Homo sapiens: one gene and its partners. The protein of the gene in region 4 interacts with the protein of the main gene of each other region in a biochemical or structural test. Each region holds a gene or a part of one and is shown on either strand. Other genes may lie near its edges.

Region 1 (7,509 bases), on a different chromosome or scaffold from region 4:
GTAGCTTGGCCAGTTTCAGTTTTCATCTCTACTCTTATAGCTTTTAAGCCCTTACTCTATTGTTCCCAAAGCAATATGAGATACTGTTTGCTGCGTACAAGAAAAGCTGTGGATGTTGGCCATATATTGCATAATCTAATGTCAAGAGGGAACCAGTAAAAATAAAGTGTCATGAGGAGCAAGGGATGGAGAGGTTAGGACAGGACATAATGTTTTTGGCCCTGGGGTTAATTCTTTAGAACTATCATTTATGAGAAGCCTTAGATCTTTCACCTAATGCTGCTCTTCAATATTATCCCAACTATTAAAACAGAAATGTTGCTTTTAATAAAGTAAAACCACTGTTAAACAAAATATTAGTGATTGTTCCATGAGAGTAAATTTGAGAGTCTTTAGGAACATACTTTTCCAACTTCTTATCTAGTATCTCTACTGATGATTCATATTATTGATCTTGTTGACCATACATCATGCTTAGAAAACTTTGACGGTATATTCCACAAATGACTGGTGAGTAGGACAATGTATAATATAAGGTGTGTGGTTACCTGGTTATGAATGTCTTCTCATTAATGAAGATCCAAGAGGGGTACTGGTGAGCCATCATAGTCATCTTTTCCTCCTTTTTGAGATGGTCTGAGGATATCCTAAACATGAGAATAATATTAATGATTTGTTCCTATAATGCATTAAAAAATTAGTTTCTGATTTAAGTTGAGTGTTTTGTTGTGTCTCTAGAGTATAAGAAGGTTTTAGAAAGTTTTTAAGTAGTATGTCATGTGTGAGCAAAAATACAGAAAAATGTATTATGTAAATGAAAAACTACAGAAACAGTAACTCCAGACACGGATGGATTGAACAATTTGGTAAGTCTGTTTTAGATATATTTCTAGCAAAATAAATATGACTCTATTGATTTATATAATTCTGTATAAGGGAGCATATTCCTTCTATTGCAATAACTCACCCAAACTGGCTGAACCTTGCCCCAATCAGCAGAAGACAACTGCAATTCTAGGCAGCTAAAATCAAGCTCTGACTTGAAGAGTTGATTAGGTATGATGTAATATTTTTCAAGTCTCCTTCAAGCTCTGGAAACTGTGGTCAGATGTGAATAATCTCCTCCTTTATATGTTCATATAAATGGCATTAGGGTGTGACCAGAGATGTAAAGTATAATATTTTCTGTTCATTCCATTTTGCAAAAATTGAATATTCAGTTATCATGGCTCCAAGTCTATAAGATTTTAGGGGATAGAGCCAGAATAAAAAAGATGGATGAGAGAGTTCAGTTTTCTTTTTTTTTTTTTTTTAAAAAAAAAAACGTTGTGTATAAGGGGGTGGATTTCCTCCTTTTCCTTTCAAATCTGGTTATTTGGGTTGGGTAAGATGAATAAAAATTAGGAAATTATATGTCCTAACTCTTCAGAGTACCAGGAAAAAAAGAAAACAGGAAAGCTATTCTTCTATTCTCATAAAATCTCTGATGCATATTTTTCTTTATAGCATGTTGTTAAACTCACTAGGTACTTTGTTACAGTTTTCAGGGTGAATGCTTGGCTGGAGTCTCATTTTAGGCTTTTATCATTCCGATCATCCCATCACCTATTTGGTCACAAACCATCTTGGTATCTTTCTTAATAAATACAGCCCAAGTCCCTTAACCTGACTCTCAAGTTTTCTTCAATTCCACTCAAACCTACCTTTCCAGGCTCCAAATTGAAACATTTCTTCAACACCAGGCCTTGTAATCTAATGAAATTTCATGTCATTGAGTCTTTTCTCACCCATTTCCCCTGGCAGCAGAGGGCCCTCCTCACTGCAGGTCCAGATATCTGGTCCCTTTTAGTCCCCAGTGGGAAATCTTAAAGTCTCCCCATGTCCTTTGAATCCACACTGTTGTCATCATTCTGCTTTCTACCTTGTATTGTCATTATTGATTTATACCTTACTTTCTTTTCTATTGCTATCTTCTTGCTCAAAGAATTGTGCTTCTCTAGTTGGAAATGGCATCCTCTGATAGCACATCATTGGCAGGTCTCATGCAGGACACCTGGAGGACTCATACCAGAGACACAGAAGCTTAGTCACCAGGCAAAGTAATTCTATACGTCAGAAGCCACATGGGCATTTTATGCTGCCTTGGGCACACAGACACAACATGCTCCATGAGCCCAGTGAATCCCAGTTACTTATTCACAGGATTTGGTCTGGGCAACTTGGTTATACAGGTTACACAGGTTCCTCCAGCTTCTCAAACTTGAGTTTTGCCCCTGGATTTTGTCATTCTAATAACCCACCAAAAGGGTTATTAATGTCCCCGACTGAAATCCCCCAGTGATGACCCTGGGGTCCAAACACTTCCTTCTTCCTCCTGGGTCCAGATTATTTATCATATATTCCTTTAATTTAGCCCTACCTCCACCTCTCCATCCATGTTCCAAGAGCCTATACCTTGCCAAAGAGTTCACTTCTCTCCTCATTTCTCGGCCTCTTAGCAACATTTGACAAGATTGATTTTCCTACCTTTTAAAACACTTTCTTCTTGATGCTTTTGAGACAAACCATGAATAACAATCACCTCACTCTATTTTCCTGCTATCTCACAGGCCTCAACACTAGTCTCCTTTGCTGATTCCTCCTTTGTATGATCACTAAATACTGGCTTGTTTGAGTGTCCATTCTCAGCCATCCTTTCTTCTCTATCTATACATTCTTCCAGGTAATCGAATCTGTCTCCATCCCATAATCTCTGTTGAGCTCCAGACGCATGTCACCACCTACCTAATCTCTACTTAGATGTGTACCAGGCATCTCGATATCTACATGGCTGAAAAAGAACCACTGACTTTCTCCCATGCTCTAAAATTTCCTCCTCCACAATTCTTTCCCATCTAGGCATCAAAACTAATATTTAGTCTCATTTTTTCCCTCTTTCATCATAAGCCAAATTCAATCCAAAAGTAAGTCCTATTCACTGTACCACTAACATATTCCAAATTCGAAAGCTTTGATTTCCACTGCTACTACCCTAAGCCAAGCCACCATCATCTTTTTCCTGGATTATTGCGTCAGCCTACTAGAGGGCCTCCCTCTGTTGTGGTCTGAATGTTTGTGTCCCCACAAAACCTAGATGTTGAAACTTAACCCCCAATGCAATAGTATTAACAGGTGAGGACTTTAGGAGGTGATTAGTTCATGATGGTGGAGACTTCATGAATGTGGTTAGTGCCCTTATAAAAGAGACCCCAGAAGCTGCCTGGACCCTTCCACCATGTCAGAGCATAGCAAAAAGACCATCTAAGAACCAGACAGCTTGCTTCCCTCACCAGACACTGGGGATATTTGGAACTGAAGAACCACTGATAGCAGCTTCTTATAATTACAAAGTGAAAATTGGCAGTGATGGACTGAAAAATCATTGCAGTAGCTTTCCAACTGGCTCACTCTTTATTTGCATTCATAAGAAATATCAAAGATATCATTAAAGAGGGCAAATAATTGCAATGTAGTTATAGTGACACACTGTTGATCTATGCTGAGGTAACTCATAGCCAGCTTCAGAAGACTTCAGAAGATGTGATGAAAGGGTTTCCAAGGCTCTTATATTATTTTCTGACTTTAGGAAGGAAGAAAGTTGAATATAATTTAATGTAAGAAAATAAAAACAGGATAAAATTTTCATTCATAGGCAGCACATAATATTTGAGTAGGAAATAATATTATTCATGTCTGATCTAAAAATTGGGTAAATAAAATATTCAAACAGTTTAAATACCTGAAAGGTAAGAACATGCTTTGGTAAAAGTCCCATTGTTAGTATTAACAGTGAAGTGAAATACAAAAGTTAGCCGGGTGTGGTGGAACACACTTTTAATCCCAGCTACCTGGGAGGCTGAGGCCCGAGAATCACTTAAACCTGGGAGATGGAGGTTGCAGTGAGCCAAGATTGTGTCCCTGCACTCCAGCCTGGGTGATAGAGTGTGACTCTGTCTCAAAAAAAAAAAAAAAAAAAGAGCAAAACAAATAAACAAACAAAAACAATGAAGTGAGGCATAGATCTATGAATTCAAATAGTTTTTCATCCTCATCTTCCCATTCCCATTCACCATGATTCATAGCAAACTAAAACCTGCTAGGGCCCTTGTGAAAATCTCCTAAATTATAAAGACTTGGTAGATATAAGCATCTGAGCAAATTTTCTCAAGGACTTAAGAGGAGAATAACAGAGAAGTCATGAATAGCAACGAGGGAGAGAATTTATGAAGAAAGAAAAAATTACAGTTCTAGAAGCCTGGAGGTCTTACTTGGGATGTTCAGTAATTTTGGTAGAACATAATAAACTACAACTTGAGGAGGAAGATGGTTGTTACAAATCTATGTAGGCCCTGGGGCCAGAGATTATTGACTTAGATTGTGTGTAAAATAAGATCATTATTTAATAAGTTTGGTTATTTACTTTTTCATTTTGTCCAGAAACAATGAAGCTGGAGAAACAGGGAATTAGATAGGTCAGCAATTAAGTCCTGGAGAAATCAACAGCACTAGAAGTATAGGAGAGGTAGAATTGGTCTGAACAAGCCAATGAGATCTGGATGGAGCCTGAGGAGGCAGTGTTGGGCAGCATTAGCGTTCCAGCAATGCTGGAACGTGGTTCACCTCCCCCTGCTCTGCATTCCTGCCTAGAGGTGGGCTTGCCTGGACTTACCAGTTGCCTTGTGACCAGAATGAGGCCAGAGGACAGGAAGTGAATTCTAGTACAAATTAAATCAAATGGGTCAGTCATTTAAAGTAACTTCCTGTTATCCAACCATGAGTTAATTAAATGGTTACATATCTAAAAGTGGAAAATTGGGTTCACTCGTTTGTAAATTCAACAAATATTTCACGAGTTCCTTCTCTGCACCTGCTACCGTGCTAGGCACAGAAAGTATAGCCTGTATCTATATCTATAGCCTCTTATTTCTGAGGCCACAAGGTGCACAAAGTGTCATAATGCTAATGATTTTACAAAGAACTAATATATATACATATATCTATATCTATCTATCTATCTATCTATCTATCTATCTATCTATCTATCTATACATATATATACAGGTGCTAACTTCCCTGTATTTCCCAGCCAAAGACAATTTCTCTTGCTTCTGAAATTTCACAGGAAATTTTCTGTAGCTTTCTAATTACTTACTGCTTTCTCTCTCTAACCATATTTTATTTTACTTAATTTGATTACTAGGTCCTTTAGGACAGAATTATTGCTATTTCATTTTTGTGTCTTCTAAAGTGAGTGAATATATGCAGGCATATAGATAAAACATACACAAAATATTGAATACATCCAACATACAGAGAGGTATATTATAATATTAATGGTAAAATTAAGAGCTAAGAGATTATGTGTGATAATTATTTCTTTTTTTATTTTGTATGTACTGTCTAAATCATAGACAAGGAATATATGTTACATCTCTCTCACCCACGTCCCCAGTAAAAGCTACTTAAAAAAAGAACAGAAAGTATCACACTAGAATAGCAAGTGTGTATTTCAATTATGAGATAAGAGTATGTTAAGGGCTGTACACACGGAGAGTCTTTTTAATAAAATATTGTTTCAGCTTGAAGAAGCAATAGAAAGTTACAATTATGTATTCATCTCCAAAACGAAACTGTTTTCTCAAAGTTATGACCTGGAACCTTGGAGTAGAGAAGAGCAGAGTTATATGCAATTACATCACTTCAAGAAAATGAGACAAAGCATCTATAATTCCATCCAGTATCTAGTTCTCTCAAAAAAGGAAAAGAGTTAACAGAGTGATGGTTTCTGGGAAACATTTGGCTCCATACTTTTTCTTAAAATGTGCTTTATTTGCAGAGACAGTAAAGGTCAAGAGTTGGCATATATACAAACTATCACTTAATTAAGTAATATTGGTTGCAGTCAGTGATTGTTGGTTTTGAGATAGAAATAATGTATTATAATCATTGAATCTAAGAGAGGACTAAGCAGAATATGAATCAAACACACTTCTATGTGAGCATGCCACTGCCCTCAGTTCAAGTGGAATCTAATTGGAAATGCCAAAACTTTACTGTTCTATTGCATATTTACATGGTACTAATGCCATGCATTTTATTCTGCTCAAGGTGCCCTCAGGGAGATAAAGAAAGCAGAAACGGTCAGAGAAGCAAATTTGTATTAAGGCACTTAAGGCATCTTGCCACCACTGGGTCTGGGAGGCGCTGCTCAGTCTGCCGACAGCATCTTCTGGAATTACTGGTGTGGTGGAACTCAAAAATTTTCTGCTTCACCTGAGCTTCCCAGTAGAAATTCTTAGGCTGACGTCACAAAGATCACGACTCATTTTTCCTGTTTGTATATTTGCTGCAAAAGAATCGACACTCTCTCCTCTTAAGCTCCTTTACTAGGCTCTAGGTGATGATGAAGTTTTCCTTTAAGTTAACATCCTTATTACTTAAATAGGAGACACTTCATGTTCTACTCCTGAAAGCAGTGGTATTAGTTAAGTTTGGTTGTTGAGATTATGTTATGAAAGTGATGAAATCACTATAATTTATCATTTTAAACATACAAATTAATTTTTGCAACAGAATAACTCTCTAACTGTAATGTGAAAGGAAAATATTCAGAATTCCTTTCTCAGAGGTTTTGTTTTCAAATGGCCTATACTTGAATATTTTAAAAATCTAAGCTTTTATATGAAGCCCATGTAACTCTAGTAACCGTGAATTCCCCACCTACATTGCAATCAATGAATCTATATAAGCAAATGGACTGTCAGCATTGGGTTTCTATCTCAGTTAAAAGTAAAGGATCCTTCTTATTTTAGGAAATTAAAACAAGAATCAGGTATAGAACTTTTAATTACATGCTTAAAAGACTTGTTACATACATGTTACACTATTTTGAATATAACTGGAAAAGTTAATTTTTTCGTAATCATTGCTGGGTCTCTCTGTGTCACTCTTTTCTCTCTTTCTCTCTCTCTCTGATTGACCACAACATTTAATAGTTTATAATAAAATGTTATACACGTGAGAAATAGTAGAATAAATGTAAATTCAACACAATATTCTAATGTATAGATATAAAGTTGTTATCTATCTATCTATCTATCTAAACAGATTTTAACTAGAAAGACTTCCACCCAGTTACGGTTAAGTAGATTAATCTCAAATCAATTTCAAATATGGTTAAATAAATTTATCTCAATTGGGGCTACTATTCTTTATTTAGACATATGTCTATCAATAAATATAAAGGCAAATAACTTTGTTTAAGGATGTATAACAATATGGAAATTCAGCATAAAAGCATATTTCCTCTTTGAAAAATCTTTAATGAATATTGGAACCCTAACTTATTCTAATTCAATTTGATTCCTTTATAAGTTTTTAGCTAAACTGTACTAAACACAATCAGACCCCAGAGGGAAATAACATAGTAAACTTCAGTTAGGTTGGGTTTAGAATTCTATCCACAATTCT
Region 2 (7,509 bases), on a different chromosome or scaffold from region 4:
AGGCCCAGCTCATTATAAATCCTGGCAGCCAAGAAGGAAAAAGGGCTGGATCCCCATACAAATTTTGTTCCTTAAATCTTTTCAGATTTAGCTAGATTCTCATGGTTCTTCCTCAAGTCATGGGCTCAAGAGTGAGGTTGCAAACACCTAGTTAATCCCCAGGCCTGTGCTGAATCCAGCCCACTCCTCTGAGGTCCCGGCTCCTGCCCGTTTCTGCACGCTTCTCTTTTTAGATCAATTTCTTTATCCTTCCTTTCTGCACTTATATTACTTGAACAAATGACAACGAAGAGGAGGGAGACTGTCTCTCCTGCCCTTTCTTCTTCCTCTCCTTCGCCTTCCTTGTCATTGTCATGCTCTTACCAAATTTCAGTAATTTCACCTCCACACCTGCTTTCAGATTCCTTTGTGGGGCCTTCTAATCTTCCTCTCTAACACTTCATTATCGCTGGTGTCATTTCCCCCCAAACTTTACATTGGTTTATTTATTGCTAATATAAATTACTAATTAGTTCGAACATATTAAAAAGCACAGATAATAATCTACAAGACAACTGGCTTATCCTTTTCATCAAAAAAAGTAACACATTCTGTTATTTGTATAAAATCTCAAAATATTTTTAAGAAATAAAACCATGCAGAGACAGCCAATTCCCTCCCCTCCCCGAGATTAGAAGATAACATTACCTGGCTTCTATATGTCATATAATCCCACGTAATCATGACCACATGTTCTTTTGTGGATTTGAAAATTTTAAAGAAATAGAATAATACTATATATATTCATTTGCAGTTTGCTGGTTTCCATTCAACACTGTTATTTAGAATTTTGTCCATGTTGATACACAAAGTCTGGGTAGTTTAACTGTTGTAAGTAAATCATAGCGTAAATCTATAGCCCTACTCATGGGGAATTAGTGTGTTTCCCTCCTTTTTTTTTGTATCAAAACTTTTACTCGATAAAATATGTACACCTAGTTCAGTAGTGCTGAGAGGGAATTCATACCCTGAAATACTTATATTAGAAAGCAGGAAAAGTCTCAAATCAATAATCTAAGATCTAATTCAAGAAACCAAAAAAAAAAGAGCTAAATATATACAAACAAAGTAGAAGGAAGGAAATACCCAAGAAAGAAATCCCCAGGCCCACATGGTTTCACCGGAAATTTCTACTAAAACAGTTAAGGAGAAATTTATGGCAATTTTATACAATCTCTTCCAAAAGTTAGAACAAGTGGGAACACTTTCTAACTCATTTTATGAGGCCAGTTATCCTGATACTGAAACTAGCAAAGACTATACAAAAAATGAGAACTATAGATCAATATCTCACAAACACTTAGAGGCAAAAGTCCTCAACAAAATATTAGTAAAGTGAATCTAGCAACACATAAAAAAGTTATATACATGGCTAAGTGGAATATATATCAGATACTCAAGGGTGGGTCAGCATTAGAGAGTCAGTCAATCAACTATCCATCATACCATGAAGTCAAAGAAGAAAAATCTCATGAACATATAAATTGTCCCAGAAAAGACATTTGACAAAATACAACACACATTCATGAATAGACATGGACTATTGACTTGATAAAGAACATCCATAAAAATCCTATAGCTACATCATAATTGGTGGTAAAAACTCAGTGCTTTGCCCTTTAGGTCAGAATAAGGCAAGTTCTTGCAACTCTTATTGAATATAGCACTGGACATTCTAACCAGTACGGTAAGATAAGAAAAAGAAATAAAAAGTATATAAATTGGAAAGAAGAAATAAAACTATCCAATTTGCAGATAACATGATGATCTACATAGACAATCCCAAGAAATCTACCAAAAAAAATCCTCCTAGATCTAATAAGGCAGCTCAGTAGGTTGCAGAATGTGGACTGACACATAAAAATTACTCACAGTTCTACCTACTCCACAATAAACGTGGAAACTGAAGTTAAGACACAATGCCATTTAGAAATGCCCCAAAGAAAATAAAACACTTATGTACACTGTAAAGAAATTTCAGATTCAGAATCTGTGCACTGAAATTTATAAAACATTGATGAAAGAAGTTAAAGAAGACCTAATTACCCATAGAGAGACAACCTGTGATCATGGATTGGAAAACTCAACACAGTAGAACTATTAATTCTCCCTAATCTATACATTTGAAGAAATTCCTATCAAAATCCCAGCAAGGTTTTTGCACCCATAAACGCGCTATTCTAAAATTCATATGGAAAGGCCCAGAACCTACAATAGCTAACATAAGTTTTATAAAGAATAATAAAGTGGAAGGAAGTCACTCCACCTGATTAAAGTTGACTATGCAACTACAGTAATCAAGACAGTGTGCTCTTGGCAGAGAGACTGACATATAGACTAATGGAACAGAATAGAGAACCCAGAAATAGACCCACAGCAATAAGTGGAAACGGTTTTTAGCAAAGGTGCAAAAGCAATTTAATGGAAGAAGGATCACCTTTTCAACTAATAGTCCCGGAGCTATTGGACATTCGTTGGCAAAACCCAAACCAAACCAAAACAAATAAGCCTCAACCTAAACCTCACACCTCATACAAAAATTAACTCAAAATGGAAAATAGGCTTAAGTATAAAATGTGAAACTATAAAATTTGTAGGGAAAAAAGGAGAAAATCTTCGGGAACCTCAGGCTAGGTGAAGACTTAGACTTCACACCAAAAATCAAAATCCAAAAAAGGTAAAATTAATAAACTTGAATTCAACAAAATGTAAAACTTTCTGCAAAGGACTCTGTGAAGAGGGTGAAAAAACAAGATAAAGTGGTAGAAAATAATCACCGAGTGGTAAGGCCAGCATCTAGAAAATATAAAGAATTAGGAAAACTCAGTTGTTAAAACCAAACAATCCAATTAAAAAGTAGGCAAAAGACATGAACAGACTTTTCACTGAGGAGGATACACAGATGGCCATAAGTACATAAAAAGGTCTTGATGTCATTAGCCATCAGGACAATGCAAATTAAACCATCAGGAGATATCACTACACACTTATTAGAAGAGCTAAAATAATAAAAAAAAAAAATAGTGGCAATACCAAATGCTGCCCAGGCTGGGAAGGTCCTGAATCACTCACACACCGCCGGTGGGAATGCAAAATGGTGTAGCCATTCTGGAAAAGAGTTAGCAGTTTCTCATAAAATTAGACATGTGCTAACCATATGACTCAGCAATTGCACTCCTGGGCATTTATCCCAGAGAAATGAAAACTATGTTCACACAAAAACCTGTACAAGAATGTTCACAGCAGCTCTATTTGCAATAACCAAAACCTGGAAATAATCCAAGTGCCCTTCCTGGGTGAACGGTTGAACACACCTTGGTTCATCCAGATGACGGAACACCACTAAGTAATTAAAAAGAAACACCTATGGACATGCTTGCCAACCCGGATGGGTCTCAAGGGAATTGCGTTTAGCGGAAAAAGCCAGTCTCGAAAGGTTGCATAGTGTATGATTCCATTTATAGAGCATTCTTAAAGCGACAAAATTATAGAAAATAGGAACCATACTGTGGTTGCCAGCCTCAGGGAGGGGGAAGGAGGAAGTCAGCTTGGCTATAAAGAGTAGCATCAAGGATCCTGTGATGAAACTCTCCTGTCCTCTGATGTGTTGGTGGTCACATGGTTCTACATGGGTGATAAAATTACAGAGAACTAAGCGCACGTGCATACCACACACACACACACACACACACACACACAGAGCAGTCTATAAAATGAGTACATGTAAACTGGTGGAATCTGAAATCTGAACAAAGTTAATGGGTTGTATCAATGCTCATTTTCTAGTTGTGGCATTGTACTATGGTTTTGTAAGATGTTATTGTTGGGAGAAACTGGTGAAGGGAATTGCATGTGAATCTACATGATCTCAAAACAGGGTTTTACTACATTGCTTCAGTGAATATCCACTGTGTGTGTCTTATGCACACAGACCAGGTTTTCCCTAGAGGAGATACCTAGAAGTGGAATTGTTAGATCTTAGGATACACCCACCTTCACTTTTTCTAGATTATTCTCTAACATCTTTGTTCCTATTTACATTCTAGTCGAACTCATGTGAGGTCTAAGTTTTCTACACCTTCTCTAATATTTGGTATAGTCACAATTTAAATTTTTTTCCAGTACCGTAAAGGTAAAAAAAAATCTTTTTGCCATCTTAGTTTTGAATTCCCTGATTCCCAGAGGGTTAAAGTCCTTTTCTTATTTTATCAGTCCATCTGGGTTTTCTCATTAGTCTCATATTTTACTCTTGAGTGGCTTGTTTCAAATTACCACATTTTAGAACTGTTTCTGTATTCTAGATCCTGGCCTCACATAGGTCTGTTTCTCCTCATCTTTTAGATATCCACCTATTTTTCACAATGGTGACTCAGACCAACGCAGTGCTATTCACAGAGTCCAGAACAAAAGAACATTCGGAATGACATTTTTACGCTTTAATGGCTATTGAGTGTGAGACATTACTAATAGCTTTGGAACATGCACTCGTGGTTGTTGCTGGCATGTGGGAGATGTTGCTGTGGAAGGCAGCTTCAGTCGGCCGGGGAGATCAGCTGCCTTCTGGCTGGCCTGTCCTACAGACGTCCCACAAACCTGGCCAGCCCACCTCTGCATAAGCCATTCCTTGCCATGAGTCTCTAATGTGTATCTCCACCTGCTTCTGTTTCTCTGGATGAAGCCTGTCCACTACAGGTTTTGACAGAGATTTAAAATCTCCTGTAGAGACTATTCCAGCTACTCGCCTGGCATTTCTGCTCAGCTGGCATTAGGGCCTGTGGCATGAGCACTCTTCCCTTAAACAGCTCCAGAGCTTCCTTCACGGGTTCCAATGGGCCAACAGAAGTGTCTTACTACTTAATGGCCACTTATTTAAAATTATCCCAAGAGTAATTAGAGGCCAGGCGCGGTGGCTCATGCCTGTAATCCCAGCACTTTGGGAGGCCGAGGTGGGTGGATCACTTGAGGTCAGGAGTTTGAGACCAGCCTGGCCAACATGGTGAGGCCCCATCTTTACTAAAAAACAAAAACAAACAAAAAAACGCAAAAATCAGCCAGGTGTGGTGGTGCGCCCCTATAGTCCCAGCTACTGGGGAGGCTGAGGCAGGAGACTGTTTTGGATCCAGAAGGTGGAGGTTGCAGTGAGCCGAGATTGCACCACTGCACTCCAGCCTGGGTGACAGAGCAAGACTCTGTCAAAAAAAAAAAAAAGAAAAAGAAAAGGAGTAATTAGAATATTTTCTTTTCTTTTTTATTGACAACTAAGAAAGCTAAGGAGAAGATGATGAACAAAGACGGATGACAGTAGCCTTATGGTGAAATCATTCTTGAAAGGAAACCTGTGTGGGACATCTCTGGGTACACTCACTCATCATTGGGGTGGAATTTTAAAAGGAGGAACGAGGAGCACCTTTGCAAGGCATCCTTCTCACCACGGCGGTGCAGAGCAGCAGTCAGGCGCTGGTGCAGACTCCCCGGATGGAATCCCGCCTCTTCTTGTGTGCCCTTAGAGTAACTTAACCTCTCTGGGCCTTGTTTCCTCAACAGTAAAAAATGAAGATATGAATAGGATGGTGACATCCAGTGAGGGCATCCTAGGGCCGTCCCGACTGTTATCCGAGGTGACAAACCGCTCTCAAAAGAGAGTCTGGCAACGTGCAAGCAGTCGATAAACACTCCCAGGCGACAGAAAAGGCACAGAGGCAGCTGCTCATCTTAAGCATGTCATATTTTTAAAGAACTTGGAGGAGGATTAAAAGTCAAACAAAATAACTTACAATTAACATTTACAAATTCAGGCAGAAATAGAAACATCACAAGAAAGTTTGGTCTCTTGTTTTTTTTTTTTCTTTTTTCCCCAGCGTTTCGTGGCTACCTTTAATCAGCGCACACAGCTAGGACCACCACTGACCAAACTCAAACCCGACGTTTTAAATCATGGAGGAGCCATGAGCTACCAGGTGTAAAACAAGCGACGTGTCTTACACTTTCTTATCTTTGGGCAGAACTGTGATACTTCTGGAGGATTTTCAAAGAGGATTTGAACAAAATAGCTTTGTTTAACCCGGAGTTAGTAGAAGTGGTTGTTTCAGAACAGTTAACTCCCTGGGAGTTACTCCAGCATTTACAGCAATTTTTAACTGTGTTCTTTTCCCTCAGATTTCTGTTTTTCCCACAAAAAAAAAAAAAAAACAAAACCTCAAAAAACAAAACACACACACGCGCGCACGCACGCGCACACACACACACACACACACACACACACACACACCCCCTCTGCCGCGGTACCCTTCCCCTGGCCTTCCTCCACTGAAGGGCGGCTGGGTTCCAGGCTCTCAGCCGTGACCACAGCCCCGGCCCCAACCGCTAAGGAGGTGCTCATCACTGGAGGTGGCCGCCAGGGAGCTCAGTGCGGGACCTGCTCAATCCATACGGTCCCCTGACTTGAGGGTGACCGTCCTTAAACTGTCCCCCGGAGCTTCGCCAGATAAAATGTCCAAAACACACACTGGAGTTCCCTGACGTTTCCTTCCTCTGAAAAACTCTCTTTCCAGGCGGGGCGTTCTGTGGTCAGACGAGGCAGAGGCCTCCCCGGAACGAAGTCCACGCCCCCTCCCCACCCCAGCACCCAGCGAGCCCACGCGCCCCTCACCCACGCGCAGAGAAACCGAGCACTTGTTGATTCTCACGTTGTTGCAATTGGAAAACGGAACAAGGAACCAGAGCTCGCCTGTTTCCAGCCAGAGTCGCACGGGGGTCCCCAAAGACGCTTGAACCTTTTCCCAAGCCCCACTCCACCTTCCAAAACGGGGGGGCTCAGGTGGACGCGAAAGGACACAAGGCGCTGCCCCCAGCACCCCGGAAAATCTAGTGTGGCGGCAAATGACCGCAGGTCACACACCCCGGCCTCGGGGGCCACGGAAAACGGACGCACCCGGCCCAGGACAGGCAGTGGGGCCCAGGAGGGGACTGCCGGGAAGACCCGGGCGGGCCGGCGGGCGGCTGCGGGCGGCGCACGTGGGCCCAGGTGGGCGCAGCGACGGGCCCGGCCGAAGAGCCCGAGACAGGCCCTGCGAAGGCGGAAGCCCGGACCCGGGCTCTCCTGGCCGCCCCTGGAGCTCAGAGGGAGACTGCGCTTCGCCCCGGGGGCAGGGGCAGGAGCGCGATCGCGCGCGGGGCCCCCGGGGTGTGATTAGCAGGCGCCGCGAGCCGGGAGGACCCCCCAGCCCGCCCTGGCAGCCAGCACCCTCTCCACACCCGCCCAGAGTGGCCGCTTTTGACCGCCGTCCCCTCCCACCCTAGACTCCTCCCCTCAGCCCCACGGCCCGAGGCCGAGCGGTTTCAGCGACCCTGGGACCGCCGGGCCTGGCTGGAGTCCACCCCTGGACACCTGTCAGGGTCGGGCCCCGGCGCTGTAAACCCGCGTCTACACCCGCGCCCAGCCCCCGCGCAATGGGGATCGGGGGCGGCGAC
Region 3 (7,509 bases), on a different chromosome or scaffold from region 4:
CGGCCGGGAAGACCCAGCCACCAGCCAGTGCTTCTGATGGGGCTTTCTCTGTACTTGGCCCTGATGGACAGAATAAGAGAAGGTATTCACATGGTACTGACCCTGTGCCAAGGATTACTGTAAGCCCCTTCCATAGAGTAACTCATTTAATCCTCGCAACAACCATATTATTATCCCCAATGTACAGACTGGGACATTGAGGCATGAGGAGATTAAAATATCTTGCCCAAGGCCACACAGCTATTAATGGTTATTATTAGATTCTGGCTCCATAACCACACCCTTGATCACTGTGTGACAGTAGCAGAATTGAGACTAACAAAAGCAACCCTGAAGGCTCCTCTCGGCTTGGGGTGACATCACCCTAGGAGACCACCCAACTGCGAGTGCCTACAGGCACAAGCCACATCCCACTGATCTTGTTGTCCAGAGCCCAGTTGGGAAAGAGGAAGGGACAGGGAATGGAGTGGTCAGAGGCACAAGCCGTGCAATTAGAAAGGTCTGTTCCACCAGCCTCGCCACCCGCTGGTGCAGCACTTTCTAGCTTTGAGTCTCACTGAGCTCAACTTGGAACAAAGCCTGTCTTCTAGAACCACGGGAACTTCTGGGAGATGAGGCAGCTAAAGAGCTGAGTTAAACTGTGAAGCTTGACCAGGCGCAGTGGCTCACGCCTGTGATCCTAGCACTTTGGGAGGCCAAGGCGGGCAGATCCCTTGAGCTCAGGAGTTCGAGACCAGCCTGGGCAACCTGGTGAGACACTGCCACCACCACCCATCTCTACTAAAAATACAAAAATTAGGCTGGGCGCGGTGGCTCACGCCTGTAATCCCAGCACTTTGGGAGGCCGAGGCGGGTGGATCATGAGGTCAGGAGTTTAAGACCAGCCTGGCCAAGATAGTGAAATCCTGCCTCTACTAAAAATACAAAAATTAGCCGGGTGTGGTGGCGGGTGCCTATAATCCCAGCTACTTGGGAGGCTGAGGCAGAGAACTGCTTGAACCTGGGAGGCAGAGGTTGCAGTGAGCCAAGATCGTGCCACTGCACTCCAGCCTACCCGACAGAGTGAGATTCTGTCTCAAAAAAAAAAAAAAAAATTAGCTGGGCATAGTAGAGCACACCTGTAGTCCCAGCTACTCAGGAGGCTGAGTTGGGAGGATGGCTTCCACCCAGGAGGCAGAGAAGGTTACAGTGAACCAAGTTTGTGCCACTGCACTCCAGTCTGGGCAATAGAATCAGACCTTGTCTCAGAATAAAAAATAAAAATAAAAATGTGAAGCTTGTGCCTGCCAGAATCGTTACTTAAGTCCCCTCATTGGGAACCTGGGGGTTTTATAAGGCTGTCAGAGCTATTTGGCCTTTTTTTCCTTCTCTTTTTTTTTTCCTTTTGCTTTGGGGATTGCTTCAGAATGGAGCTGGTGGAAGACTGGGTTTGCCAACATTTTAGTGGAAGAATCTGGATCTTAACCTTCTACCGGGCCAGGAACGATAAGGTCAGGGACCACATCTGATTCCTCTCTGGGACTCTGGCACTCAGCACCAGCCTGGACGCAAGCCTGGGTTGAGGAAATCTTTGCTGAATGATATGGAACTGAATTGAATTGAATGAATTTCACCTGTCAAATTAGTTTAAGATTTCTTAGGATGAGCCACACTGCCATCTTGTGACAGAAGGAGGCCAAACTGCTGTGTTTGGGGTACATGCATTTTTGGAATATAAGTGCATCCAGCTGGCTGCAAGGAGACCTTGTTTACAAAATAGGATCTCCTGAGGACCTCTCCTTAGCAACACTTGGCCAGCAGTTCCCTCCTCACTAGTGTAGAAGTTTGAAAGCCATGAAGTCTGCATTTCTCCAAAAGCTCCTATAATTCAGGTGATCAGTAATTCAGACAGCTCTCTTGGGGGCCACTCCCTGTATCAGTGTAATCAGGCTTTGCTCTCTGTAAAGATCCCTGTCACTCAGGTGGGATGGAAGAGCAAGGTGAGGTTTGTTAAGGAGAAATTGTGTCTCCCAGCTCACACCTGAACCTGGCTATCTGAAATGACCACTAAGATTCCTTCCAACCCAGTGCCCTGTGATTCTGGTCAGTCAAGCCAATGGGCTCCAGGCCCTCCAGGAAGGTGGGTGAACCAGGTGGAAGGGAGGAATTTACCTGGATGCAAGATCTCCCAACAGGCTGGGTGGGTCAGAGGAGGCAGGAGAAGTGGTCAGGAGAGAGTTCAGAGAGGAAGAAAACAAAAAGCACATTCATTCACCACTTCTGCTGTCCCCCGGATAGAGAAGACCCACGGGACACACTCCCACCCACCCCCCTGCACAGCCCTGACTGCTCTTTCAGGGATACACCGAAATGGCATTAGCCCTGCCCCGAGGGACTGGGATCCAGACCCAGCTCAGCAAACCCCTGAGCCCCAGGATCCTCATCTGTCAAGGCAGTGTAAAAATTAACCCCAGTGCTGCCTGTCCCAAGGGAGGCCGGACTATCTAAAGGCAGAGGGAAGGACTCCGGGGTTGCCAAGAATGTTTGAGGGACTGTGGGTCCTGAAAGGTCACCAGACACAGGATTTGGGATTTGTAATTTTGAGATGTCCTATTATATAAGGTCAGGATTACATACTGCCACCTGCCAAGAGGCATTCTTCTAATAATCAAGGAGACCCAATGTCTAATGGGATTTAGCTTTTCAATCTTTTCATAGAAATTTATGAATTAAGTTACAAAAAAGAAACACAGTAGTTTGTTTGTTTGTTTTTCTCCCTGAGCTTCCACCAAACTATGCTCCAGGGCAGGGCAGTCTGGTCCACCACTATGACCTGAGTTAGGAGAGGAGATTTCAGGCAATGTTTGGGGCACTGTCTGGGCCTCTGTTTCACCATCTGTAAAATGGGAAAGCTGACTAGCAAATCCCCAATCCAGCTCTGGGTTCTGAGCCCTTTTAGCTGTTTCCTCAGAAAATCAGCTTGGGCATGCATGGGGGTGGGTGCTATGCCCAAAGTGTGATAAGGAGATGGCACCCCTGGGGACCCCACAGCAAAGACTCTGAGGACGCCGTCCCCTGGGCATGGCCAATCCTCAGTGCGAGCCCAGACCTAGGATAGAGGAGGAGGAGAGAGAGAAAGAGATGGGTGGGGGTAAGAGAGGGGCTGAGGGCCAAGGAAGGAAGAGAGGGAAAGCGGGCGGGGGAGAAAGAGGAACAGAAGGGAGGAAAAGAAGGGACAGGAGGTTCCTCCTCCAAGGTGGATGCAGCTAAAAGGGCTGCAAACAGGCAGAATGGGGCAGGGGCCTGTGGGCACCTGGGACGCTCCCCTCTGCACTCCGGGGTCTTGGGCTTGGCTGGAGCACTCACCCGCCCCGAGACACCACCAGCTTCACTTTCACTTTGTAGGAAACAATGATCCCCAGGATCTCACGGTTGGCACCTTCCCTCAACCTGCAAAGTGACACAGGGGAGCCAGTTCAGGGGCCTTGCCAGGTGGGCGAGACACCTCAGGGGTGGGTATGCTGGGGGGCAGTGGCCGTCCATCCCCCATCTGGCTAGCCACTCAGCTACCATGTCCAATAGAGCCCAGTGGAGATGAGGAAGGCGAGCAGTGCCCTTAGGTAGCAGGGACCCAGAGCCCCGGTTCCAAGTCTGACTGTGAGACTCGCTCACTGTGTGGCCCTGCTGAGCCCCTCTCCCTGCCCAGGCCAGCGTCCCCGCCATGAGGGCCAGGCTCCTCCTCCCCTCAGATGGATTCTGCTTCTCTCAGCAACCCATGGGCAGAAAGGGCCACACGGGGAGTTCACAGAGGGCGAGGCAGCTGGGGTGGGGTGGGGTGGGGGCCATCAGAGAAGGACTTCTCCGCAGAGGTGGTGCTTCAGCTGGGTCTTGAAGATGGGTAGGGTGTGAGCCAGGGTGGAGACAGGGCAAAAAGCTTCAGGTAAGTGGGAGGCTGTGCAGGGGCTGCTGAAGAGAGCTGAGTCTGTGCTGGGAGTGGCGGCTGCTCTAGACGTAGGCCAAAGCCCCACTGAAGGACCACACTGGCAAGAGGGCAAGATGGCATCCCCATAGCCAGGGCTCTGCTGGAGCAGAGTAGCCTAGAGGCGTCCACGATGACTGTGCAGCAGGAGTGACCAGATGCCCTGGGACCCCTGACTTGGAGGGGCACCCCATGTTGGGTCTAACCCAGCTCACCACCCTGGTCTCTCCTCAGGGACACCCCATCTGACTGAAGGCATTACGTCAGAAGCTGCCACCTCTTGCAGGAAGCCTTCCCAGGTTGCCCTCCCCCAGGCATGGTAGCAGAGCCCAGCACTGCCTGAGTGAGCTGGCCTAGTGGTCCATCTTATTCTCTCAGTCACCCCTGGGTAGGGTTGGGAGTAAGGAGGCAGCTTCCCTGACAAGTCAAGCACCTGAGGACAGGCCCTGACAAGGCTATGGAGAGGGTAGCCTGAGCCTTGTCTTTGAACTGGGGGGACCAAGGAGGGTGTGGCCCCATCAGGCAAGATGCACTAGGAGCCCAGGGCTAGGAGGGCAGGTCCTCACAGGGTGCTAGAGGCCAAGTTCGTGTCTTCGTGCTTGAGCTTCCCGTCCAAGGCGAGGCCCCGCTTCTCTCGGTTATTGGCTAGGAAGGGGGTCAGTGTGTAGACCTTGCAGAACGTCGAGCTGGGTGCCACAGTGTCACTGGGAAGAAAGGAAGCAGCTGTGGAGATGGCCCTCCCCAGAGCCAACCCCAGCCCTGATCTCCAGCCCAGCAGAATATCTAGTCTGAGCCTGCTCCAAGTCTCCCTCTCCCAACCTCTGTCCCCCAGACACACGGACCACTTGGGCCAGCCCAGCTCGGGCAAGGAGACCACTGCCACTCAAAAGAGGCACATCTACATTCTACGCACAAACAGGACTGAATCTCGGATATTCTAAAAGATTATCCTAGTCAAGCAGCACAGTGCTAAAAAGCACATTTATTTAAAGAATTACAGCCAGCCGGGTGCAGTGGCTCACGCCTGTAATCCCAGCATTTTGGGAGGCCGAGGCGGGTAGATCACGAGGTCAGGAGTTGGAGACCATCCTGGCTAACAAGGTGAAACCCCGTCTCTACTAAAAATACAAAAAAATTAGCCGGGCATGGTGGTGGACGCCTGTAGTTCCAGCTACTCAGGAGGCTGAGCCAGGAGAATGGCATGAACCTGGGAGGTGGAGCTTACAGTGAGCCGAGATTGCTCCACTGCACTCCAGCCTGGGTGACAGAGCAAGACTCCATCTCAAAAAAAAAAAAAAAAAAAGTACAGCCACAGCAGGCACAGTTGCTCATGCCTGTAATCCCAGCAACTTGAGAGGCTGACAGGAGGATTGCTTGAGGCTAGGAGTTTGAGACCAGCCTGGGCAACATAGCAAGACCCCATCGCTACAAAAAATTTTAAACATTAGCCTGATATGGTGGTGCACACCTGTAGTCCTAGCTACTTGGGAGGCTGAGGCAGGAGGATCACTTGAGCCCAGGAGTTCGAGGCTGGCTGTAGTGAGCCATGATCATACCACTGCACTCCAGCCTGGGCAACAGAGTGAAACTCTGTCTCTAAACAAATTTAATTTAAATTTATTTTATTTTATTTTATTTTATTTTATTTTATTTTTTTGAGACAGAGTCTTGCTCTGTCGCCCAGGCTAGAGTACAGTAGTGCGATCCTGGCTCACTGGAACCTCCACCTCCCAGGTTGAAGCAGTTCTCCTACCTCAGCCTCCCAAGTAGCTGGGATCACAGGGGCGCGCCACCATGCCCGACTAATTTTTGTATTTTTAGTAGAGATGAGGTTTTGCCATGTTGGCCAGGATGGTCTCAAACTCCTGACCTCAAGTGATCTGCCTGCCTCAGCCTCCCCAAGTGCTGGGATTATAGGCGTGAGCACCAGCCCTGTCTCTAAACACATTTTAAAAAGAAAAAATTATAGCTACACATAAACCATAAATGAAGCTATTTGGGCACCCATATACCCACCATCTAGGCTCAACAATTAAAACTTTACTTGCTTGATCACATCCATCATATATAGGGTGTTTTGATTGTCCAATTTTTACTTGCTTTTGCTCTATCCCCCATCCTTTCCAATGAGAGAGCTGTCATGCAGCAGATAGTGAACAAGCCTTGGAGTCGGACGACCGTGTTCCAGCCCCAGCTTTGCTGCTTGCTAACTTGCAAGTCACATCTCTCTGAGCCACTTCCTCCTCTACATACTGGGGCAGCAGCAACCCCAGCCCCACAGCGCTTCCTGAGAAGTAAACAAGTCTGTGAGTGCAAATGCCTCCCCAGCCATCCCTGCTGGTATTCGTTATGCAGACGCTGGCACCATCTGCAGTGGTTGGGATTTTCTACTCTTTAGGGATTATATGTTACTCTGGTTCTAGATCACTTCACTTTACCATCAGGAATCTATGCCTCATAGCTCTGATTTTTTTGAAAAAATCAACAGTGGATATGAAAAATATCCAGTAACCAGAGAAAGCTTGATCTAATCATAGCATGTTCACCTATAGGACATTAAAAACTATTTCAAAGGCCATGTAGTAACATTTTAAAAATATTTTCAGTTGCAAGAAATACTGATTGGAATTATACATAAACAAATACACATATACATGTAAAATTATATCAGGTATAATTGCCCCAAGAAATTACTTGCAGGGCCAGGAAAAAAAAATGTGTATGTCTTTGAATGGGAGCATTTACTTCCTTTAGGTAAGTAAAGATGTTTCACTTCAGATCTCTCCACTTGCCTTAGCTGCCAACAAGCCTGGGACAAAGTTCGATCCATGCTCAACCATAGCAGTTCTCCTCAAACCTAGATGATTTTTTTGTGTGTAATTATTCTCTGCACTCCCACACACAACCCCTTTTTCCCAATGAGTTGGATTACCCCTTTATCAGACAAGAGCTGTGTACCTAGTGCCTTACCCACTTTGCCCTGGCTACCAGGAAGCCAAGAACAAAGTATTTCCCTTCAACCTAGGTTTCTTGTACAACGTAATTATTTCTTCTCACAACCCCAATCCCCTTACATTCATTAGCTATTGTTTTGTCACTCTAGTTTTAGTGGGTCTCTTCCTTGACTGTAGCATGCATTTTCTTGAAGCTAAATCAGGTGGATGGTTTCTAAAAGGCTCTTCGGGATCATCTACTCTGAGTGGCAAGGAAGTCTGAGGCCCAGCCCTCTGCCAGGTGGAGAAGAGCCACCTGGACCTGTAACAGGACACCTAGAGCTTCTCTTTTTCCCACCCAATCCCATACGCCCAAGGCCAGACTTGTGCCCACTTACTCAGCCTCTTCCATGGCAACAGGGCACTTGTACTGAGCTGTGTTGAAAAGGCAGATGTCTGCATACTGGCGCACTAGGGAGGGAGAGGAATCAAGGTGGAGTGAGTCGGGAATGTAGCTCCCATGGAGTCTCACAGGCGTCCCCGGGTTGGGGATATTCAGCCCCAGGCAATGGCCAGAGGCCACCAGTGGGGACTTCTGCATAAGACCACCCCTGTCTT
Region 4 (7,509 bases):
TCTTCCCCCCTCCATCCCTGCCTTTTTTTTTTTTTTTTTTTTTTTGAGACAGAGTCTTGTTTTGTTGCCCAGGCTGGAGTGCAGTGGTGCAAACATGGCTCACTGCAGCCTTGATCTCTTGGGCTCAAAGGATCCTCCCACCTCAGCCTCCTGAGTAGCTGGGACTATAGGTGCATGCCACCATGCCCAACTAATTTTTTTTTTTTTTTTTGAGATGGAGTTTCGCTCTTGTTGCCCAGGCTGGGGTGCAATGGTGCAATCTCGGCTCACTGCAACCTCTGCCTCCTGGGTTCAAGCAATTCTCCTGCCTCAACCCCCCAAGTAGCTGGGATTTCAGGCATGTGCCATCACACCTGGCTAATTTTGTATTGTTAGTAGAGATGGGGTTTCACTATGTCAGTCAGGCTGTTCTCAAACTCCTGACCTCAGGAGATCCTCCTGCCTCGGCCTCCCAGAGGGCTGGGATTACAGGTGTGAGCCACTGTGCCTGGCCTGCCAATTTTTTTTTTTTTTTTTTTTGGAGACAAAGTCTCGCTCTTTCCCAGGCTGGAGTGGAATGGCACCACCTCGGCTCACTGCAACCTCTGCCTTTCGGGTTCAAGCGATTCTCCTGCCTCAGTCTCCCAAGTAGCTAGGACTACAGGCATGTGCCACCACGCCCGGCTAATTTTTGTATTTTTAGTAGAGACGAGTTTTCACCATGTTGGCCAGACTGGTCTTGAACTCCTAACTTCAGGTGATCCACCCGCCTCTGCCTCCCAAAGTGCTGGGATTACAGGCATGAGCCACCACACCTGGCCTCTGCCCAACTAATTAAAAAAAAATTTTTGTAGAGACAGGATCTCACTATGTTGTCCAGACTGGTCTTGAACTCCTGGGCTTAAGGGATCGTCCTGTCTCAGCCTCCCAGAGTGCTGGGATCACAGGCATGAGCCACCACACTCATCCTTGTCTTCTGGTCAGGGAAGACTAACTCCTCTTACCTTGACTATTTCCCCAGGGCCCCAGACACACATCGCCACGCAGGACCTGGGTGGGGAGTACGGAATTTATTTTATTGTTCTGCGTCTGGGTTTGGTTCCTTGGACGTCACGGTTCCTGGATGGGGGTGGGTGGGTCCCACCTCCCTAAGTCATGGTCCCACGGGCCTGTTGGGATTGTTTTCCAGGTTCAAAGTGCACTGAGAAAGCTTCACAGTTTTAATACTTCCTAGATGCTCAACTGAGGCAAAGTGACAAAATGGCCCTCCCACCCCCGCCCGCCACAAAAATAAAATCCCAAGCCCCTGGCAGCTGCTGCTGCAGCCGTATGAAAAAATAATACAAACTCTTCTTAAAAAATAGATTACACAGAAAAAACGCAGAGGACAGAGGGGCATGAGGAGGGGCAGGGAGCCTTGGGGGAGAGGCCCGGGAAGGGGCTCTGAGATGACTGCAGGGGCTGAGCTGCTGGTGGACACCTGCCCGGTCCACTGTGCCTATCCTCTCACTGCCGGAGCCGGCTCCTCCCCATCGCCGGCCAGGGCACCGCAGCTCCACGCTCCCTCAAGGGACCCCCTTCACCCTGAGGCTTGGTACCTGCTTCTCACTAAAGTGGCTTTAAGAAAGAAACAAAAAAAAGACCCAAAGCGAGAGAAGGGGCTGTTTGCTCAGCCACTGGGGACCTCCGCCCCATGGGATCAGCCCTCTCTCTGCTTTGGGGGTTTGGAGAGTCCTCGATACCTGTTGCTACCTAGACACCCCCTGGGGGGAAAACGGGCCCCAGACTCCCCATTTGGTTCCTGGGAACACAGACACCTGGAACTTGGCCTCTGCCCTGATGTGCGCCCTCCCACGCACCCAAGCGTTATATGGGGCATGGTTCGGAGGCTGCCTCCTGGCCCAGCCTCCAGGGAGCTATGGACCAGACAGGTGGAGCGTGAACAGGGTTGCTGGGGCAGCGGCGTGTGGAAAGGGGCGTAACTCACACAGGCCCTCCAGCTCATGCAAGGAGAAGCAAGAGGGGACAGCCCTGCCAAGACAGAGGTTACAGCAGGGCGAGAGCATGGTGTGTGTGTGCAGCTGGGCCGGCTCTGGGCCACGGCAGAGAGAAGGCAGGGGAAGCGGTCCACGGGGTGGGAGAAGGCAAGTCAGGGCCTGGCTCTGAGGAGAAGCCTGGGTCCCCACTGTCCCAGCTGAGGGCCACCTCCCGCGGAGGAATCTGGTGGGGGTGGATTCTCCAGAGGTGGGGACAGGGGCAGCTGAGTGGCCCTGGCTCAGTCGGGGACCTCAGGGTGGGCAGGCAGTCCGCTCTCGCCGCGCCGGTAGGTCTCCCAGAAACCTCTGTCCAGCTGCTCCAGCTGTGGGCCCAGTGGCAGGTGGCCGGCCAGGTGCATGCGGAGGGTCTCCAGCCAGTGTTCCAGCTTCACAAAGGATGGCCTGGGTGACAGGTGGGTGGGGAACGGTGGGTCTGGCTGTCCCGGGAATCGGCCCCACCGTCTCCCAGGCCAGGGCCCCACCCCACTCACCTCTTCTCGGGGTCCAGATCGCAACAGCGCACGGTGATGGGGAAGAAGCTCGGGGGGCAGTTTGGGGGGCAGTAGCGGTCCAGGAATCCTCGCACGTTGAGGCCAAAGTCCATGGTGCGGGGCAGGTAGTCAGGGTCTGCGTTCACCCGCCCGATGATCTGTCCAGTACAAGGCCCGGCAGTTACTCCAGGGGGCCCTCAGCCTGGGCATCTGGGTGCCATCCAGGTGGTTTGAGGGCAGGTGGCACTGGGCCTGGCTGCAGCCTGACTGCAGTACCCCATGGGGGCCAGCCCATGCCTTGCTGTGGGCAGGCTTCCTGGCATGAGGCCCCTGCAGATGCTGAGCCTGCAGCCTGGGTGAGTGGGGAGGAGCCCAGGCCTCAACACCGCTGCTACCCAACCCTGGACCTACCTCGCACAGGACGATCCCAAAGGAGAACACATCCACCTTCTCATCATAGCTGCGGCCTGGATAAAGAGACCGACTGTCAGCAGATGAACACATGGGGGTGCCAGGGATGCCAAAAGGCAGGGGACCAGGCCAGCTGGGAGGATGCCCCGGCCGGGAGGTCCAGGCCCAGGAGGCAGATGCCGGCAACCTCTATGGGAACCCAGGCTTAGGCTCTTTCCCCCAACCCCACCAGGTCTGAGCAAGCCTTTGGGAGCTCTGAGGAGCAAGGGGCAGAGCCCTGGACAAGGAGTTCGAGGCACCGATCAGCTGCGTGACTTTGCACAAGTCATGAACTCTGTGCTGGTCCCAAAAGGGAACCATGTCAGGTCTCTGGAATCTGTGAATGTTACTGGGTCAGAAAAAGGGTCTTTTGCAGATGGGATTAAGTTAAGGATCTGGAGATGAGATGATGCTGGATGATCTGGGTGGGCCCCAAATGCCACTGCAAATGCCCTCTTGAGAGAGACACAGAGAAGACACAGCAGAAGAGGAGGAGGTGGCCCTGTGAAGACAGGGGTGGAGACTGGAGTGATGCGGCCACAAGCCCAGGAATGCAAAACAACCAGAAGGTGGAAGAGGCAAGGAATGCATTCTCCCCTAGATCGCCCTGGAGGGAGCGCAGCCCTGTTGGATTTCAACCTTCTGGCTTCCAAAACTAAGAGGGAATAAATTTCTGCTGTTTATTTTATCTTGAGATGGAGTCTTGCTTTGTTGTCCAGGCAAGAGTGCAGTGGTACGATTGTGGCTCACTGCAACCTCTGCCTCCTGGGTTCAAGCGATTCTCCTGCCTCAATTTCCCGAGTAGCTGGGATTACAGGCGCCTGCCACCATGCCCAGCTAATTTTTGTACTTTTAGTAGAGATGGTGTTTCACCATGTTGGCCAGGCTGGTCTCGAACTCCTGACCTCCAGTGATCTGCCCGCCTCGGCCTCCCAAAGTGCTGGGATTACAGGTGTGAGCCACTGTGCCTGACCATTTTCTGCTGTTTTAAATAATCAAGTTTCTAACAATTTATTACAGCAACCTCAGGAAACTGACACAGACTCTCTGAGCCTCAGTTTCCTTATTGTAAAATGGGAATGATACCAGCTACTTAATGATGTTAAAAATAATCGGTACATGGCCGGGCACAGTGGTTCACACCTGTAATCCCAGCACTTTGGGAGGCCGAGGCGGGTGGATCACCTGAGGTCAGGAGTTCAAGATCAGCCTGGCCAACATGGTGAAACCCCATCTCTACTAAAAATAGAAAAATTAGCCAGGCATGGTGGCAGGTGCCTGTAATCCCAGCTACTAGGGAAACTGAGGCAGGAGAATCACTTGAACCCAGGAGGTGGAGGTTGCAGTGAGCCGAGATCACGCCACTGTACTCCAGCCTGGGTGACAATGCAAGACTCCATCTCAAAAACAAAAAACTGGCCGGGCACGGTGGCTCACACCTGTAATCCCAGCACTTTGGGAGGCTGAGGCGGGTGGATCACGAGGTCAGGAGATCGAGATCATGGTGAAACCCCGTCTCTACTAAAAATACAAAAAATTAGCCAGGCGTGGTGGCGGGCGCCTGTAGTCCCAGCTACGTGGGAGGCTGAGGCAGGAGAATGGTGTGAACCCGGGAGGCGGAGCTTGCAGTGAGCCGAGATCGCACCATGCATTCTAGCCTGGATGACAGAGCAAGACTCGGTCTCAGAAAAAACAAAAAACAAAAAACAAAAAACAAAATACCCGAAACAATTAGTACTAAATGTCAATTCTCATTTACTGAATGCCAACTAGGTGGAAATGAGTTTACAACCTTTAATCCTCACACTAATCCCTAAACATAGGAAACACTAAGACTTTTTTGTTTTTTGAGACAGAGTCTTGCTCTGTCGCCCACTGCAACCTCTGCCTCCTGGGTTCAAGCAACTCTCCTGCCTCTGCCTCCTGGGTTCAAGCAACTCTCCTGCCTCAGCCTCCTGAGTAGCTGGGATTACGGGCGCCCGAAACCATGTCCAGCTAATTTTTGTATTTTTAGTAGAGATGGGGTTTCACTGTGTTGGCCAGGCTGGTCTCAAACTCCTGACCTCATGATCCACCTGCCTCGGCCTCCCAAAGTGCTGGGATTACAAGCGTGAACCACTGCGCCCGGCCACTAAGACTGTTTTATAGTCTTCTTTGCGGGCTATGTTAACTCTGTGTGTGTGTGTGTGTGTGTGTGTGTGTGTGTGTGTGTGTGTGTGTGTTTGACACAGAGTCCCACTCTGTCGTCAGGCTGGAGTACAGTGGTGCGATCTCGGCTCACTGCAAGCTCCGCCTCCTGGGTTCACATCATTCTCCTGCCTCAGCCTCCCGGGTAGCTGGGACTACAGACGCGTGCAACCACGCCCAGCTAATTTTTTTGTATTTTTAGTAGAGATGGGGTTTCATCATGTTGACCAGGATGGTCTCAATCTCTTGACCTCGTGATCCGCCCACCTCAGCCTCCCAAAGTGCTGGGATTACAGGAAGGTTTTTTTTTTTTTCTTTTTGAGACACAGTCTTCCTCTGTTGCCCAGGCTGGAGTGCAGTGGTGCAATCTTGGCCCAATGTAACCTCTGCTCCTGGGTTCAAGTGATTCTCCTGCCTCAGCCTCCCTAGTAGCTGTGCCACCACACCCGGGTAATTTTTGTATTTTCAGTAGAGACAGCGTTTCACCATGTTGGCCAGGCTGGTCTCGAACTCCTGGCCTCAAGCAATCCGCCTGCTTCAGCCTCCCAAAGTGCTGGAATTACAGGTGTGAGCCACTGTGCCTGGCCTATTTTTTGTTTTCTTGAGACAGGGTCTCACTCCGTTGCCCAGGCTAGAAGGCAGTGGTATGATCATAGCTCACTGCAGCCTTGATCTCCTTGGCTCAAGTAAATCTCCCGCTTTGGCTTCCTGAGTAGCTGGGACCACAGGCATTAGGCACCACGCCACATGCCAGGCTAATTTAACTAGGTTAACTATGATGAGGTGATGGCTGGGGTCTGCCTGCCCTGAACCTGTGTTCATGTGTCACCTGCTTGTAGAAGGACTTTATAACCTATAATCTGGGCATATATAGGACCATTGACAGCAAAGAAATGGACTGAGGGAAGCAGACCCTGTGGGAGGCAGAACTATGATCCCCAAAGATGACTGCGTCCTGATCCCTGGGACTTGTATACGTCCCACCTTCCATCGGACTCTGCAGATGGGATTAAGTTGAGGGTCTTGAGATGGAGGGCTGCTTTTGGATTATCCAGGTGGGCCCAATGTCACCGTAAGGGTCCCTATCAGAAGGATGGAGGGCCATGGTGGCTCATGCCTGGAATCCCAGCACTTTGAAAGGTCAAGGCAGGAGGATCGCCTGAAGCCAGGAGTTTGAGACCAGCCTGGGCAACATAGTGATACCCCCGTCTCTATTAAAAATTTAAAAAATTGGCCAGGCGCGGTGGCTCACGCCTGTAATCCCAGCACTTTGGGAGGCCGAGACGGGCGGATCACGAGGTCAGGAGATCGACACCATCTTGGCTAACACGGTGAAACCCCGTTTCTACTAAAAATACAAAAAATTAGCCAGGCGTGTTGGCGGGCGCCTGTAGTCCCAGCTACTCGGGAGGCTGAGGCAGGAGAATGGCGTGAACCCAGGAGGCGGAGCTTGCAGTGAGCTGAGATCACGCCACTGCACTCTAGCCTGGGAGACACAGCGAGACTCTGTCTCAAAAAAAAATAAAAAATAAAAAATAAAAAAATTAGCTGGGTGTGGTGTTGCATGCCTGTGGTCCCAGCTATTCAGGAGGCTGGGGTGGGATGACAGTTTGAGCCCAGAAGGTTGAGGCTGCAGTGAGCTATGGTGGCACCACTGCACTCCAGCCTGAGTAACAGAGCGAGACCCTCTTTAAAAAAGAAAAAAAAAAGGAGGAAGGTTAGAGCCAGGGAAAGAGATGCGGGGATGGATGCAGAGATCAGAGAAGAGAAGATGCTTTGCAGCCAGCCCTGAAGACAGAGGAGGGGGCAGCAACAGGAGGAATGAGGAAGCCTCCACGAGCCAGAAAAGGTCAGGAAACAGGTGCCCCGGAGCCTGCAGAAGGAGCTCACCCTACCGGCGTCTTGATTTCAGCCCGGTGAGGCTGACGCTGGACTTCAGACTCCAGAACTGTATGATCATTTATTTAAGCCACTAAGTGTCTTCTATTTATTTATTTTTTGAGATGGAGTTTCGCTCGTCACCCAGGCTGGAGTGCAATGGCGCGATCTCGGCTCACTGCAACCTCTGCCTCCCAGGTTCAAGCGATTCTCCTGCCTCAGCTTCCCTAGTAGCTGGGATTACAGTACTACAGTACTGGGATTACACCCACCACCATGCCCAGCTAATTTTTGTATTTTTAGTAAAGAATGGGGGTTTCACCATGTTGGCTAGGCTGGTCTCCAACTACTGACCTCAGGTGATCCACTCACCTCAGCCTCCCAAAGTGCTGGGATTACAGGCGTGAGCCACCGTGCCTGGCTGCCACTAAGTGTGTTATAGGAGCAACAGGACCCACAGGGTAACTGAAGAGCCAAGGAGGCTGGGA

The links.
Region 1: the proteins of LIMK1 (region 4) and RASSF6 interact in a test that uses a peptide from one of them, tested with the Homo sapiens proteins (one large-scale study listed by IntAct).
Region 2: of the proteins of LIMK1 (region 4) and MBP, one has a biochemical effect on the other in vitro, tested with the Homo sapiens proteins (one study listed by BioGRID).
Region 3: the proteins of LIMK1 (region 4) and ARRB1 form a complex in vitro, tested with the Homo sapiens proteins (one study listed by BioGRID).

Annotation. Positions count from the first base shown.
Region 1 is NC_000004.12:73,611,183-73,618,691, forward strand, and holds part of RASSF6 (ras association domain-containing protein 6), read right to left. Parts: intron 4,755-7,509; coding exon of another isoform or gene 4,709-4,754; intron 2,062-4,708; exon of another isoform or gene 1,948-2,061; intron 648-1,947; coding exon of another isoform or gene 614-647; coding exon 549-613; intron 495-548; exon of another isoform or gene 1-494.
Region 2 is NC_000018.10:77,124,814-77,132,322, forward strand, and holds part of MBP (Golli-MBP), read right to left. Parts: exon of another isoform or gene 3,547-7,509; intron 2,836-3,546; exon of another isoform or gene 1-2,835. UniProt on the Homo sapiens protein: The classic group of MBP isoforms (isoform 4-isoform 14) are with PLP the most abundant protein components of the myelin membrane in the CNS. They have a role in both its formation and stabilization.
Region 3 is NC_000011.10:75,269,550-75,277,058, forward strand, and holds part of ARRB1 (beta-arrestin-1), read right to left. Parts: intron 7,363-7,509; coding exon 7,290-7,362; intron 4,663-7,289; coding exon 4,525-4,662; intron 3,430-4,524; coding exon 3,346-3,429; intron 2,176-3,345; coding exon 2,152-2,175; intron 1-2,151. UniProt on the Homo sapiens protein: Functions in regulating agonist-mediated G-protein coupled receptor (GPCR) signaling by mediating both receptor desensitization and resensitization processes.
Region 4 is NC_000007.14:74,116,047-74,123,555, reverse strand, and holds the end of LIMK1 (LIM domain kinase 1), read right to left. Parts: intron 2,974-7,509; coding exon 2,918-2,973; intron 2,665-2,917; coding exon 2,507-2,664; intron 2,418-2,506; coding exon 2,255-2,417; 3' UTR 1,031-2,254; downstream 1-1,030. UniProt on the Homo sapiens protein: Serine/threonine-protein kinase that plays an essential role in the regulation of actin filament dynamics. Acts downstream of several Rho family GTPase signal transduction pathways.